Linked DNA regions of Homo sapiens: region 2 is linked to region 1. Evidence: fine-mapped expression QTL. Tissue or cell type: whole blood. Region 1 holds a variant in brackets; the other region holds the start of a gene. All regions are shown on one strand. Distances are between the middles of the regions.

Evidence for each region. PIP is the estimated chance that this variant, and not a neighbour inherited with it, causes the effect.
Region 2: it holds the start of EP300, and the variant in region 1 is fine-mapped to the expression of EP300 in whole blood (TOPMed, PIP 0.97).

Annotation. Positions count from the first base shown.
Region 1 is chr22:41,236,780-41,245,038 of GRCh38, reverse strand. It overlaps CHADL (chondroadherin like), which reads left to right and starts at 4,108. Exons shown (of 6, transcript NM_138481.2): 1 at 4,108-4,165; 2 at 5,419-5,596; 3 at 6,154-7,863. The coding sequence starts at 4,158. RANGAP1 (Ran GTPase activating protein 1) reads left to right here. Exons shown (of 16, transcript NM_002883.4): 16 at 1-260. RefSeq lists enhancers at 3,504-4,004, 4,005-4,505, 5,955-6,542, 6,543-7,131, 7,132-7,720 and 1 more and silencers at 6,818-7,197, 7,258-7,357. The variant A/C (reference allele first, on the strand shown) is at 4,941.
Region 2 is chr22:41,088,389-41,096,388 of GRCh38, reverse strand. It overlaps EP300 (EP300 lysine acetyltransferase), which reads right to left and starts at 3,797. Exons shown (of 31, transcript NM_001429.4): 1 at 3,291-3,797. The coding sequence starts at 3,384. MIR1281 (microRNA 1281) reads right to left here and starts at 3,876; the gene lies at 3,823-3,876. RefSeq lists an enhancer at 3,107-3,346 and silencers at 3,457-3,556, 3,737-4,506, 4,607-4,896.

The sequences.
Region 1 (8,259 bases):
AAAACATGTTAAATGAAATAAGCCAGACACAAAAGGACAAATATGATTCCATTTAGATGAGGCATCTAGAATAAGCAAATTCAGAGACAAGAAGGTAGAGGTTGCCAGGGCTAGGGGAAGGGTGGAATAGGGAGTGAGGCTGCAAACAGATTCTCTGGGATGATGAAGATGTTCTGGAAATGGAGAGTGGTGATGGTTGCATAACATTGTGAATGTACTTAATGCACTGAATTGTACACATAAAAATGGTTAAAATGATAGATTTCATGTATTAATATATTTTACCTCAGTTAATGTTTTAAAAATTAAGCAAAACTATAGAGCTTCACCCGGGTGTGGTGGCTCACGCCTGTAGTAATCCTAGCACTTTGGGAGGACGAGGCGGGCAGATCACTTGAGCCCAGGAATTCAAGACTGGCCTGGCCAACATGGCAAAACCCTGTCTCTACTAAAAATACAAAAATGAGCTGGGTGTGGTGATGCATGCCTGTAGTCTCAGCTACTTGGGAACCTGAGGTGGGAGGATCACCTGAGCCCAAGAAGTGGATGCTGCAGCAAGCCGTGATCGTGCCACTGCACTCCAGCATGACTGACAGCGAGACCCTGTCTCAAAAAAGAGAGAGAGAGCTTGTAGGAGATAGTGTAAGTGAGTATCTTCAAGGCCTTAGGAGTGAGGAAAAGATGAATAAATTAAGCTGTATTTAACCTCCTTTGCCATTATCGTGGGATGTTCACACAATGGAAATGATGTAGCAGTGAGAACAGGTTTCTGTTTATCAAAATACTCATTAAGGAGTACAAAGGCAACTTACAGACAGGGAGAAAATAATTGCCTAAACTCTCTCTGTATATATATATGGGTGGGGGGGATAACTTTAATTTTTTTCAAACAGGGTCTCATGTTGCCCAGCTTCTATCTCGGCTCACTGCAGCCTCTACCCCCCGGGCTCAGGTGATCCTCCCAGAGAAACATAATCACAGTGTGACACTCTTATGCCCTCACTAGAATGGCTAAAATACAAAATACAGTACCAAGTTTGGTGAGGATTTGGGGCAACTGGAGTGGCTGGCAGATGTGTAAATTGGTACAACCTTTTTTTTTTTTTTTTTTTTTTTTGAGACAGGGTCTTGCCATGTCACCCAGGCTGGGGTGCAGTGGTGTGATCACAGCTCACTGCAGCCTCGACCTCCTGGGCTCACTTAGTCTTCGTGCCTCAGCCTCCCAAGTAGCTGGGACCATGTCACAAGCCACCACGTTCAGCTTTTTTTTGTAAAGACAGGGTCTCATTGTGTTGTCCAGGCTGGTCTTGAATTATTGGGCTCAAGTGATCCTCCCGCCTCAGCTCACTTAACAGGCATGAACCACCATGCCCGGCTACAGTGCTCTTTCTAATAAACCCATGCTGGAAACAACCCAAATGTCTATCACTAGAGGAATGGGTAAGCTACTTGTGGTACGGTGTGGTACCGAGAAGGTAGGAATGGTCTGCCCAAGAAGAAATATTTTAGCATTGACATTGTTTAGACTTGTCAGCACATGATAATAAAAAGCAGAGACCAACTTTAAGTCAGTTCCATTGTGTCTCACTTCTCCACTGACAGCACACCCGCTTACTGCCTGCATTGTGGGCAGACTGCCTCCCGCCCCTGCCCCATGCCACTGTTGTCATATATTTATAGAATGGAAGGCTGGAATGCTGAATTTAAAAAAAAAATTAAAATAGATGAAGCCGGGTGCGGGCTCACACCTGTAAATCCTAGGACTTTGGGAGGTTGAGGCGGGCGGATCACTTGAGGTCAGGAGTTTGTGACCTGCCTGGCCAATATGGTGAGACCCGTCTCTACTAAAAATACAAAAATTAGCTGGGTGTGGTGGCGGGTGCCTGTAATCCCAGCTACTCGGGAAGCTGAAGCAGAATTCCTTGAACCTGGGAGGCGGAGGTTGCAGTGAGCTGAGATCACGCCACTGTACTCTAGCCTGGGCAACGAGAGCTAGACTCCGTCTCAAAAAAAAAATAAAAAGATGATTCTCACTAACATAATATTGAGTGGAAAACGCCAGACACAGCCAGGTGCAGTGGCTCATGCCTGTAATCCTAACGCTTTGGGAGGCCGAGGTGGGAGGATCACTTGTGCCCCGGAGTTCAAGACCAGCCTGGACAACATAGCAAGACCCCAACTCTACAACAAATTTTAAAACCAGCTGGAGGTGGCGGTGCATATCTGGAGGTCCCAGCTGCTTGGGAGGCTGGTATGTCAAGGCCGCAGTGAGCCATGATCACACTTCACTCACACCTGGGCAACAGTGAGACCCTGTCTCAAAAAAAGGACGAAAGAGCACACTGAAGTTCCATTGATTGGAATTTGCCAAGCAAAAAAAGCACAAAGCAGATGGCTGTGTGGCATGGCACTATTTCTTTTTTTAAAATGTTACTGCAGGGCTGGGCGTGGTGACTCATGCCTGTAATCCCAGCACTTTGGGAGATCAAGGCGGGCAGATCACTTGAGGTCAGGAGTTCGGGACCGGCCTGGCCAACATGGCGAAACCCCGTCTCTACTAAAAATGCAAAAATTAACCAGATGTGGTGGTACACATCTGTCATCCCAGCTACTTGGGAAGCTGAGGCAGGAGAATCGCATGAACCAGGGAGGTGGAGGTTGCAGTGAGCTCCAGCCTGGGCGATAAAGTGAGACTCTGTCTCAAAAAACAAAAAACTCCTGCAGTCTAGGAAAAGTACACACAGATGTTCATTGTTTAACATATATAAATATATATAAACATATACATTTATATTTTTATTATATATAAATATATACACACATAAGTGTATACACACACACATACATATATATATATATATATATATATATATATATATATATATATATATATATGTATATATTTTTTTTCTTTTTTGAGACAGTTTCACTCTGTTGCCCAGGCTAGAGTGCAGTGGCGCCATCTCGGCTCTCGCGTTCATGCCATTTGCCTGCCTCAGCCTCCCAAGTAGCTGGGACTACAGGCGCCTGCCACCACACCCGGCTAATTTTTTGTACTTTTAGTAGAGATAGGGTTTCACTGTGTTAGCCAGGATGGTCTTGATCTCGACCTCGTGATCCACCCGCCTCCGCCTCCCAAAGTGCTGGGATTACAGGCGTGAGCCACCGCGCCCGGCCTTTTTTTTTTCTCTTGAGACAGAGTCTGTGTTGCCCAGGCTGGTCTCAAACTCCTGGGCTCAAGTGATCCTCCCACCTCAGCCTCCCAAAGTGCTGGGATTACAGGCATGAGCCACTGTGCCTGACCCCTGTTTCCAATTAAAGGAACAAACAGTAGAAGATGCAATTCCATCAGAAGCAGGAATCTGAAAAATCAAGATACATGAACATTGGCCATGGTCTGGATGTATTATTTAAAAAACAAACACGAGCTTGGGAAGATGCGTATTTGGATATTCTTTGCAATATTGTTTGTAAATAGCAAAAAATTGGAGGTAGCCAATGTCCAAGATGAATGGCTAAGTCAATGTGATACATTTACACAATGGAATACTATATACCACAGAATAATGAGATTCGGAAGAGTCAATTTGGATAACTCCCAGTAATCTGAGGTTAAGTGAAAAAAATGAGTGTCTAGAATCCTGTGTGTCCAGTATTAAACTATTTATGTCAATGTGTAAGCACAAACGGAAGGAAAGGGTCACCTGTTCTGAAGCACCCACTGTGTGCCAGGTGCGGGCCTGAACCCCCACTGTGACCTCAGAGCTACTTATTAATGGGATGTGTTTTTCAGAGACTAGGAAGCAGCCTCTGGGAGGGCAGCCCACATGGCAGGAGGGAGCCCAGGACTGCTGACTCCCGGGCCAGCTGCTGGTGCCCCCTCCCTGTCGGGCTGGCCCAAGGATTCAGGCCGGGGCCTCAGTCCTCGGCTGGGGCAGGCAGGAGGCCCTGTAACTCCAGCCGCTGCTCCCGCCCGCCGCCCGCCCCTTCTTCACCTCAGCCTGGGGAAGCCTGGCTTGCCTGGTCTGCCGACAATGCCTCCCATTCAGCCCTGTCCCAGCTGCCAGGCCTGCGGGCCGTGGAGGGGGGCTCCTGCCAGGCGGGGACAGCCTGTCCCTGCGCTGCGCCTCCAGGCTGGACCAGCAGTTCCAGGCGGCATGGAGGGGTGAGTCTTTGGGCCCGATGGTGCAAGGGGGGATTCAGAGCAGCTCAGTGGCCTCAGGTAAGTCTCTGCCCCCTCTGGGCCTCTCAGAGGCTGGCGGGCAGGGGCTCTGGGGACTTCCTGGGGTTCTCCAGGAAGGGGGTCTCCCAAGGTGGGCTCTGAGACACGTGGCAATGTGGCCACTGCCAGGAACTGGTCCTCTGGGGCTTGTCTGAGAGCCCAGCAGTGGTCCCTGCATTATGAATGCTTGTCGCTTCAGCGATCTGTCCCCATGGGTCCCCTCCCTGGCCTGCCCTGAGGCACAGCCTTCACCACAGGCTCTGGAGAAGCCACCAACTCCAACGCAGGGGCTGGAGCCTGGGACCCAAAGGAGACTCCAAAACAGACGATAGTCCAGTGAGCAGCGAGGGGGAGGCTCCTGGGGGCCGGGGAACAGCCCAGCGATGGGGGAGAGGCCATGCCTGACACAGGCTGAGAACAGAGGGGCCAGCTGGGCAGGGGAGGTGATCTATCATCCTAGCGCTTTGGGAGGCCAAGGTGGGACAATCACTTGAGGCCAGGAGTTCAAGACCAGCCCGGGCAACATAGCGAGACCCTGTCTCTACCAGAAGTAATTAAAAAATTAGCCAGGCGTGGTGGTGTGTGCCTGTAGTCCCAGCTACTCAAGAGGCTGAGGTGAGAGGATCACTTTAGCCCAGGAGGTGAAGGCTGCAGTAAGCCATAGTCATTCCACTGCACTCCAGACTCCAGCCTGGGCAACAGAGCAAGGCTTGTCTCT[A/C]TTTAAACAAACAAACAAAAAAAGACTCAAGGACCCGGACTGGATGCCTCCCTCCTTTCTGGGGGGTACCATTATGCTCCTGCCACCTGGGAGCTGGCATCATATCAGTCTGAGGACAGGCTGCTTCCGAGCCTACCCTGGACCAGAGCCTCACCACAGCCTGAGAACATGCTCTGAACTGGAGTCATTCTCACAGTCAGCAAGTCCTCACTGAGCCATTGGGCAGAGGCAAAGGGACTAACCAGGTCACTTTTCTGAGCCTCGGTTTCCTCCCATGTAAAACAGGACTAATCATAGGACCTCCACTGCGTGGGGGGTGGGGGGCAGGGAGGCTCAGGGTGATTGGCACTTTCCTGGGCCCAAAGGAGGAGGCTCTGAGGGGTTTTTGGGGCAGGAGCTGCACCATGGCTGGGACTAAGTGAGGGACAGCATGTGGCCTCGGCCCTTGTGCACAACAGACTCTCCCTCCCCGTCCCAGGCCCCGGAGCTCCACCCATGTCCCCTTGGTGCTGCCGCTTCTTGTACTTCTGCTGCTGGCCCCGGCTAGGCAGGCCGCCGCCCAGCGCTGCCCACAGGCCTGCATCTGTGACAACTCCAGGCGACACGTTGCCTGCCGGTACCAGAACCTCACTGAGGTGCCAGACGCCATCCCTGAGGTCAGCAGGGCAGGAGCACAGGCACAGAGTGGCAGTGGGGCAAGGTGGGGACCCAGAGGGAGGAGCCTGGGCTGGGCACCAGTTGATCTGCCACCGCCTGCCCGGGAGACCTTGGCAAATTACTTCTCTTTGAGCCTCAGTTTACACTTCTGTAAAATGGGAATAATAAAAACCAGTAACAGGGAGATGATCTATTTAAAATCCTTACTGTGTGAATGGAATAAGTAGGTGACCCATAGATCGATACTGAATTCACTGCAGACCCTGTGGTGGAGAGGCGGGCTGTGGCAGGGTGAGGTGTGGTCTCTGCTCTGCAGAGTCATCAGCTAGTGGAGGAGAGAGAGCGAGGAGGCAGGGACAGCACAGTGTGAAAAATGCCACAGTGGGTGATGCCCAGGGCACTGGAGAGGAAGGCTTCCTGGAGGAGGTGTCAGGGGTCGGATGAAGAGAAATATGGGAAAGGTGACAGGAGAAAAGAGTGTTCCGGGGAAGAAGCAGCACTTGCAAAGGCGGGGTCCCTGCCTGGCTCAGCCCCACTTTCTCCTCGCTGTCCCCAGCTGACCCAGCGGCTGGACCTGCAGGGCAATTTGCTGAAGGTGATCCCCGCAGCCGCCTTCCAGGGCGTGCCTCACCTCACACACCTGGACCTGCGCCACTGCGAGGTGGAGCTGGTGGCCGAGGGCGCCTTCCGTGGCCTGGGCCGCCTGCTCCTGCTCAACCTGGCCTCCAACCACCTGCGTGAGCTGCCCCAGGAGGCGCTGGACGGGCTGGGCTCGTTGCGGCGGCTGGAGCTGGAGGGGAACGCACTGGAGGAGCTGCGGCCGGGGACGTTCGGGGCACTGGGTGCGCTGGCCACGCTAAACCTGGCCCACAACGCCCTGGTTTACCTGCCCGCCATGGCCTTCCAGGGGCTACTGCGCGTCCGCTGGCTGCGGCTGTCGCACAACGCGCTCAGCGTGCTGGCCCCCGAGGCCCTGGCTGGCCTGCCCGCCCTGAGACGGCTCAGCCTACACCACAACGAGCTCCAGGCTCTGCCCGGGCCTGTCTTGTCCCAGGCCCGCGGCCTGGCCCGTCTGGAGCTGGGCCACAACCCGCTCACCTACGCGGGCGAGGAGGACGGGCTGGCGCTGCCCGGCCTGCGGGAGCTGCTGCTGGACGGCGGGGCCCTGCAGGCCCTGGGTCCCAGGGCCTTCGCACACTGTCCGCGCCTGCACACCCTCGACCTCCGCGGGAACCAGCTAGACACCCTGCCCCCGCTGCAGGGCCCGGGCCAGCTGCGCCGGCTGCGGCTGCAGGGGAATCCGCTGTGGTGCGGCTGCCAGGCGCGGCCCCTACTCGAGTGGCTGGCGCGGGCGCGCGTGCGCTCGGACGGCGCGTGCCAGGGGCCGCGGCGCCTGCGGGGCGAGGCTCTGGACGCCCTGCGGCCCTGGGACCTGCGCTGCCCTGGGGACGCGGCGCAGGAAGAGGAAGAGCTGGAAGAGCGGGCTGTGGCCGGGCCCCGCGCCCCTCCGCGCGGCCCTCCGCGCGGCCCCGGGGAGGAGCGGGCAGTCGCGCCTTGCCCTCGCGCCTGCGTGTGCGTCCCCGAGTCCCGGCACAGCAGCTGCGAGGGCTGCGGCCTGCAGGCGGTGCCCCGCGGCTTCCCCAGCGACACCCAGCTCCTGGACCTGAGGCGGAACCACTTCCCCTCGGTGCCCCGAGCGGCCTTCCCCGGCCTGGGCCACCTGGTGTCGCTGCACCTGCAGCACTGCGGCATCGCGGAGCTGGAAGCGGGCGCCCTGGCCGGGCTGGGCCGCCTGATCTACCTGTACCTCTCCGACAACCAGCTCGCAGGCCTCAGCGCTGCTGCCCTTGAAGGGGCTCCCCGCCTCGGCTACCTGTACCTAGAACGCAACCGTTTCCTGCAGGTGCCAGGGGCTGCCCTGCGCGCCCTGCCCAGCCTCTTCTCCCTGCACCTGCAGGACAACGCTGTGGACCGCCTGGCACCTGGGGACCTGGGGAGAACACGGGCCTTGCGCTGGGTCTACCTGAGTGGAAACCGCATCACCGAAGTGTCCCTTGGGGCGCTGGGCCCAGCTCGGGAGCTGGAGAAGCTGCACCTGGACAGGAATCAGCTGCGAGAGGTGCCCACTGGGGCCTTGGAGGGGCTGCCTGCCCTCCTGGAGCTGCAGCTCTCGGGCAACCCACTCAGGGCCTTGCGTGACGGAGCCTTCCAGCCTGTGGGCAGGTCGCTGCAGCACCTCTTCCTGAACAGCAGTGGCCTGGAGCAGGTGGGCACTGGGCATCTGGCGGGGTTGGTGCAGGAGGCGGCACAAGGCCACAGGCAGCGTGCATTCACTCAACAAGCATTTGCCAGCCCCTTGGTGCCAGGTCTCAGCCTGGGCACGGGGACCCTGAGATAAACCAGGACTGCCCCTACCGGTGTGAGTGACAGTCCGGGCAGAACCCAGGCCACACACGGTGCCTGCACAGGACGGTATTGCTGGAGCATAGAGGAGGGAGGAATTTGGGACCATGCAGTCATCTACTGTTTGTACATATTGAGAGCCCCCAAGAGGTTTTGCCATTATTGGGTGGTGGGGTGGACCATGAACTGGGCATCTGGGTGACTTGGACGGAGCAAGTGTTTTGACATCAGACCAGCCTGGGTTTTGACCCAGCGCTGC
Region 2 (8,000 bases), 150 kb after region 1:
CAGGTGCTTTTTAAGTGCATACGGCATTAAGCGTTTACCAAGCAGTGACAAAACGTGTTCACTGAGTAATGAAGACAACAGATGACCCTCATCATTTCCATCACTCAAGATGATCAGAAACAGCTCCAAAAGATATTTCCAGGATTTGCCTAACATTAACTTTTCCAGTCTTTTGGTCATTTTTACAAAAAAAGTTTACAAGTGGCTTTCATAATCTTTTTTTTTTGGAGGGAGAGGGAGAACAAAATGTCATTTCTCAAATGATTTGTTTTACCCTAACCATACCAAATGAAATAAAAATTTCAATGGATCAAATGCAAATACTGAAACAGGAACATAAAGGTGTGAAGGCTACAAATAAGTCTTCTCTTCCCCATCCCAACACGTAAAAGTTGAGTTTAACCTAAGTTATTTGAATCAACCTGGAAATTTTTTAGGAGAATATCTGAGTATTAAACAGCAATTCAGAGGTTGAGATTTAAGTAATAATTTGATTTGTAACACTTTAGCATGTCATCCCATTGGATTCCAGTTTTCTTTCCTTTAAAGCTGACATTAGAACGCTCTTGGTGGATATATTTACATCACGAAATTTGCAAGCCTAAATCACTTTTTTTAAAAAAGTTTTAGGTGCTAGAATTTCGGGCTTATTTCAACCAGTTCTAGACAAAAACCATAATATCAAGAAATAATTTTCTTTCACATTTATAAAATACCCAAGTGACAACTCAAAAATCAAAAGTTACAAGTTTGAAACTTAAAAGTTTTAAGAGGTGATGTGCCTCCAATAAAAGTTACCTGCAAACATATTACAAACTGCAGAATGTCAAAAAAAAAAAATTCAAGATATAATGGTACCTCTGGCCGGGCGGCTCATACCTGTAACCCCAGCACTTCGGGAGGCCAAGGTGGGTGGATCACTTGAGGGCAGGAGATCGAGACCAGCCTGACCAATATGGTGAAATCCTGTCTCAACTAAAAATACAAAAATCAGCCAGGCGTGGTGGTCTGCGCCTGTAGTCCTAGCTACTAGGGAGGCTGAGACAGAACTGCTTTAACCCAGGAGGCAGAGGTTGTAGTGAGATCGCACCACTGCACTCCAGCCTGGGTGACAGAATGAGACTCCATCTCAAAAAAAAAAAAAAAAAAAAAAAAATTACAATGGTACCCAACTTGAAGTAAGTTAACAGAGGGACAGTATTTTCTTTATACTCACTTCTCCCCTCCCCCAAACCCAGACTGGTTACAATTAAAAACCGTACACCAAAGAATTCCTGGAGTAGAATCTTGATTTGGGGAGGGGGGTAAAGTTAACCCTCATTACAAAATTTAGAAAAGTAACTAAGATAAACTCTTAGCATTATGAGTGAATGAATTAATCTCAATGTTGAGTTTTTTTTTAAACTATAAAAGCCCACTTAACACATTTAAAACTCTTGTAATTATTCAAAGATATTTCAAGTAGCAAAACAGACCGACATGGAGAAAGTAGTAGCACACCTGAACAGAAGTATTTAAACAATACAGCTCCAAGACGAAACTGCTCAAATCAGGACTACTCAAAGTACACAAAAAAGTTTCCCCTACGTTCCAAGTCACTGGCTAACTCCAATGTAAAATCGACTACCACGTTACACCAAAACTAAAAAGCAAAAACTACCACATTACACAAATACGAAAGAAACACCACAAAAATCTACAGGTGATTAAGTCTCTAAAGATGATCTAAAAAATGTTTCTGAATGGCACTTTAGTAGGTGCAAAGGAATACAACGACGTTTGTGTATGTGTATGAATTCTGAAGGAAAAAACCAGCTAAAAAAATCCCTGGAGACTACAGTACCTTCATAGAATAGGTACAGATCAAAGTTCATGCATAATCAATGTTACAAGCCTTAGGTAGAGGAACTCGCAAGATTCCTACTTCTCAATTTTTGCAGGTTAACTTAAATTCATTTCACATCTTTCTTATAAAAGCAACGAATTCAAAGCATTAGCTCTGTCTTCCCATTTTCACCCTCTGAAATGAAGCCTATTTAGAAACATGCTCTCGAAGTTCTCTACAAACTCAAAGGGTACATTTAACTCCATTATGCACTCTCACTGGCAGATGGAGGGATGACGCTGAGCCTGCTCTCAGGGAGTTAAAGAGATGCTCCGTAGTAAAGGGGAACATCTTGTGGACTGTCAGATGGCCAGCCATTCTTCATCTTCATTATCCCAGCAAAGAAAAGGTCCTTACCCATCAGGATAACACCATTAAACTAACTGTAAGAAAAGAATGAAGGGATGATGGAAGAAGTCTCCCTGAACTTCTCCTGACAAAGGAGCTAGTCCACAACTGAATGAACTGGTCGTAAAGCTTTTAAACGAAAATCTTGATCTCCAAGTATGTTTAAAAGTGTAAAAAGACAAAGACACACACAAACACCAAACCTAATGCACATTTTAAACTTTTGTACAATCAGTTCACGTTTGTAGTTCATGATTGGAACTCTTTCAACTTCTAACCTTGATTTCCAGGTACGTAACTCCACAAAATTGTTTATCTTATTTCCCCTAAAATGAGAAAGTGACTGCAAACTGCAAAGAACATGCCCCTGTTCTCCCAACCTAAAAACCCAGAGTTTCAGACATTTTGGTCTCACACCAAAGAACTGGGAGATGTGAAATGAACTGCGCTCCATATTGATTCTTAAAGCAAATAAGAAGAAAAAGGAAAAAAAAGCTAAGAATGGTAGGTAAGATAAAAGAATTGTTAAACTTCACCTCTAACCTGAAATCTTGGACCTCGCACACACAAAATCAAGATTTTTTTACACCCTATTCCTCAACAGAAAATATTCTGCAAAGGAGAGAAAATTTCGAAGAGTGGAAAGTAGAGGAAACACAGTAAGTACAGTAAAGAGAAAGGATTCGAAATTCATTTGCCAAGAACAAAAAAAATGAAACTTAAATTGCATAGGAGCTCTTACACACAAATGCATTGGCATTTCCCAAATTAAATTGCATGAGAGCAACAATACAGGCCATTTCTATATAGCACCCACTTACGAGCTCTAATTCCAGAACACACACCGATATGACATAGTGTTGCAATCAATGTATTAGGAGGCAAAGAAAATGGTTGGGCTACTGGACGTCTTCGACCAGCTCATTCAAATACCTTTAAAATTAATTAAGGGGCAGGGAACTAGAGAGAGAGGAAGAAAAAAAAAATGGAAGAATAAAGGCGCACCGAGTAGAAAAGATTAAAGGGAACGTGGAAGGCCGGGGCTGCCGAAACTAACCTGTGCCATCGCTGGCGGACGCCGAGAGGGCCGGAGATGAGAGTTTAGGCCGCTTGGCTGAAGGCGGCCCCGGTTCCACCACATTCTCGGCCATTTTTAATTCTTTCGGAGATACAAGCGAGGAAAACCAGAATCCTCAGGAAATCTCTTCTTCGGCCCGGGGTCCCCGCGCCGCACCCAGGGGTGGGCTGGGGGGCTCCGACGGCACCCGAGGGGGTGGGGGAAGTTCCTTTTTCTCTTCGCCGGGTCGCAGTGGCTGGAGAGGGATGCGGACTCGATAGAAAAGGTAAGGGCAAGTGCGAGGGGCCGGGCCTGGGCCCAAGCCCGGAGGAGGGCACAAGAGCACAAATTCGCCGAGCGCGTCCGCTGCGGCGAATTCCCGAGAACTCGCGGCTCTAGAGGCGCAGTCCCCGGCCCGCCACGGCCGGCCCCTGCCCAGCCGAGGTCTCTCGGAGCTCCGCCGCCGCCATCAACCTCTTCCTCCTCGGCGCTGTCCTCCTCCTTCTCATCGCCACAAGGAGGCGGGGGCGAAAAGGGGGGAGAGGAGGAGGCGACAAGAGACACTCACCTCCTCCCGGTGCCCCCTCCCGGGCCTGCGCCCCCACCCTCCGAACCCTCCTCCTGCCGCCGCGCTCCGCGCCGCCGCCGCCGCACCGGCCCCTAATGGCCGCAGAGAACTCGCCCGAGCCGAGAGCCAGGCTGGCGCCGCCGCCTCACATCGCGCGGCGGCCGGCGGAGGCGCGGCAAGGACGCCGGGAGCGGAGCTGGCCGGACCAGAGGGCCGAGGGGGCCGGGCCGAGCAGCGCCGCCCGCACGCCCGCGCCGACGCGGAGCCCACCGAGGAGGCCCCGCTCCGGCGGCGGCGCAGGCGGCCCCTCCTCGCGCCGCGCTCCCCTCCTTCGCCTTCCTTTCCCGCGGAAAATAAATAAATACGGCCGCTGCTACGGCCCCCACCGCCGGCGGCCAGGTGCTGGGAGCGCCCGCCCCCCGGGGCTCCGTTCGGGGCCGCCCGCGGCGGCGGGAGAAGACGCCGCGGGGCGCGGGGTTATGTAATGGTCCCCCCTAGGCGTCGACGCCGGCCCGGCTGCTGGACCGCGGTGGGGGTGTGTGCGGACGGGAGGGGGCTGGGGGTCGCCTCAGCCCGTGCGCCCCGGGCCCCCTGCCACTGTCTCGGCCCCTGCCGCCTCTCTCCGACCCGACTCCCCTCCGCACTCTCTGGCTCCCGCAGTTAGCACTCAGCCCGGCGTCCTGCTTGCCCACTCTCGCCCGCTCTCTCTCGCCCTCTCTCCCCCCCAGCCTAGCACACAAACAAGATGGCGGCTGTTGTTTCTTCCCTCTGCCGAATCCTCCTTACAGGCTAGCGGTAGCGGCGGCGGCCGGAAATGAGCCAAGGGGGGGTGGAAAAGGGGAGTGGCCGGGCCTCCGGAGGGGGGCGGGGCCTAGGCCCGAGCCGCTCACACAATGGGGGAAGTGGAGCCGGGGGCGGGGCCTGTCCCAATCACGGGATCCGCCCTAGGCCCCAACGCGGTTAGCGCTTCCGCAAACTCCCCCGGCGTCACCCTGTGGCTCCCTTTAAAGGGGAGGATTTTAAGAGTGGGGAGGATTTTAAGGGGGGAGGGGCGGGGGCGGACTCAGAATCTATTTTCAGTCGGTGGATAGTTACGAGGGAAGGTTCCTGCCTTTGGTCTCTGCGTAAGGGACCAGTGGGAACCGGGACGACGGAACCCCGGAGCTGCTCCGAGGAAGGCGCCAAGTCGCCACTCAGGTGGCCAAATGGGAGCGCCCGTAGGGCGGCCCTGCTCTTCGGCCCTTGGGTGGCGGGTCCCCCAAAACCCCGGTCGAATTCACCAGGCAGGGTGTACCCACTGCCGGCTGTTCCGGGCCAGATACCCAGTGCGTCCTCACTTCTCCATTGCCCTCCCAAAGGGAGCAGTTCACATCCAAAAAGCACGTTGATTACGAGTTGTTTTCATTTTCTCTGAATTTTCCTTTTCCTTTTTATGTATTATTTATTTATTTATTTTACAACGAGCATTATTACTCTGACCAGAAAACAAAATCACAGCAGTGGAAAGATGTTTCGGCACCAGACCCAAATTCATTTCTTGCCCTCCACGTGTGTCCATACGCCCTTACCAGGTAGCACTCTCACCGCAGAAGCCTTCAAGTATTTTCCTAAACATGGCTGGGACCTGAAGACATTTCTAGGGTTTGTCTTTTTTTTTTTTCTCGTCCGCTCCCAATAGAACAAGTTAGTAAAAGACCACGTCTAGCCATTGCCTTATCTAATGTAATTATGGGAAAAACAAAAATGTGGTAAAGGTAATGTAAGGATGGAAAAAAGCAAAAATGTAATGGTGAGAGGAAATGCTGGAATATAAAGTCTAGTGTGTGGGACTCCACAGTTTTGCAGCTGAGGTCGGAGACGTGCTTTCAGGTTCCTACACATCACCCTGTGTTTGGCCATGGGTAAATTGGTACTGGAGGAGGTGGCAGGGGTGTAAGTGACCCCGAAAGAAACCCCGAAACCAGTATCTACTGATACGGTTAAAAGCTTTTTCTCGGCCAGGCACGGTGGCTCACGCCTGTAATCCCAGCACTTTGTGAGGCCGAGGCCAGTGGATCACCTGAGGTCAGGAGTTCGAGACAAGCCTGGCCAACATGGTGAAACCCCGTTTCTACTAAAAATACAAAACTTGTCCGGGTGTGGTGGTGCACGCCTGTAATCCTAGCTACTTGGGAGGCTGAGGTAGGAGAATCTCTTAAACCCGGGAAGCGGAGGTTGCAGTGAGCTGAGATTGTGCCATTGCACTCCAGCCTGGGCGACAAGAGCAAAACTCTGTCCCAAAGAAAAAAAAATTTTTTTTCTTTTATTTCATATCTCATGCTCCGTAGCTGGTATTTGCAAATTGTTGGATTTTCTTTGTTTTTTTTTTTATATTGTTTCTGTTTGTTTTTTAAATTAATGTTGGGATGAATAAATAAGAACATAAGAGTGAAGATCCTAATGGAGCAATTGAAGTTGCTGACAGGGATGGAATCTGTCCTCTAATGATCAGGCCTAGATCACCCAAACTGCAGTAGAAAAGCAGGCAAATTGAACCGGGCGTGGTGGCTCACGCTTGTAATCCCAGCACTTTGGGAGGCCGAGGAGGGCGGATCAGGAGGTCAGGAGATTGAGACCATCCTGGCCAACACGGTGAAACCCCGTCTCTACTAAAAACACACACAAAAAAATTAGCTGGGCGTGGTGGCGGGCACCTGTAGTCCTAGCTACTCGGGAGGCTGAGGCAGGAGAATGGCGTGAACCTGGGAGGCAGAGCCTGCAGTGAGCAGAGATCGCCCACTGCACTCCAGCCTGTGCGACAGAGCGAGACTCTGTCTCAAAAAAAAAAAAAAAGGCCAGGTGCGGTGGCTCACGCCTGTAATCCCAGCACTTTGGGAGGCCAAGGCGGGCGGATCACGAGGTCAGGAGATCGAGACCATCCTGGTTAACACGGTGAAACCCCGTCTCTACTAAAAATACAAAAAATTAGCCGGGCACGGTGGCGGGCACCTGTAGTCCCAGCTACTCGGGAGGCTGAGGCAGGAGAATGGCGTGAACCCGGGAGGTGGAGCTTGCAGTGAGCCGAGATCGCGCCACTGCACTCTGGCCTGGGCGAAAGAGCGAGACTCCGTCTCAAAAAAAAAAAAAAAGCAGGCAAATTGAAAAGGACAGAACTTCTTTATCTTAAAGTTGTTACAGGATGAATTCAATGTGTAGGAGTGAGATCAAGATTGGCCTTCAGGGATAATTTTGTTATTTTTAATAGTTTATACCCATATTCAGACTAAGGAGTACAAAGGAAAGAATGTTGGTCGGGCACAGTGTCTCATGCCTGTAATCCCAACGTTTCAGGAGACGAGGGTGGGAGGATCGCTTGAGCCCAGCAAACATAAAGAGACCCCCCTATTCCCCATCTCTACAAAAGTTAAAAAAAAAAAATTACTTAGGCGCGGTGGTGTACACAGCACCTGTAGTCCAGCTACTCCAGATACTGAAATGGGAGAATCACTTCAGCCTGGGAAGTCGAGGCTGCAGTGAGGTGTAATCATGCCACTGCACTACAGCCTGGGCAATAGAGTGAGAGATCCTGTCTCTTAAAATAAATAAATAAATATTTTAAAAAACAAAGCAAAGAAATGAGAAATGTGGAGGACACCTGGAAACTTGCTCTGTCATTTCCTGGTGGGAGATTGCTTGCCCAGTTTTTTTTTTTTGTTTTTTTTTTTGAGACGGAGTCTGGCTCTGTTGCCAGGTTGGAGTGCAATGGCGCCATCTCAGCTCACTGCAACCTCTGCCTCCTGGGTTCAAGTGATTCTCCTGCCTCAGCCTCCCGAGTAGCTGGGACTACAGGTGTGCGCCACCACATCCAGCTAATTTTTGTATTTTTAGTAGAGATGGGGTTTCACCATTTTGGTCAGGATGGTTTAGATCTGTTGACCTCGTGATCTGCCCGCCTTGGCCTCCCAAAGTGCTGGGATGACAGGCGTGAGCCACTGCACCCGGCCTGTTTTTGTTTGTTTGTTTTCTTGTTTTTTTGAGACAGAGCCTTGCTCTGTCACCCAAGCTGTAGTGCAGTGGCATGATCTCCGCTCACTGCAACCTCTGCCTCCCAGGTTTAAGTGATTCTTCCGCCTCAGCCTCCCTGGTAGCTGGGATTACAGGCA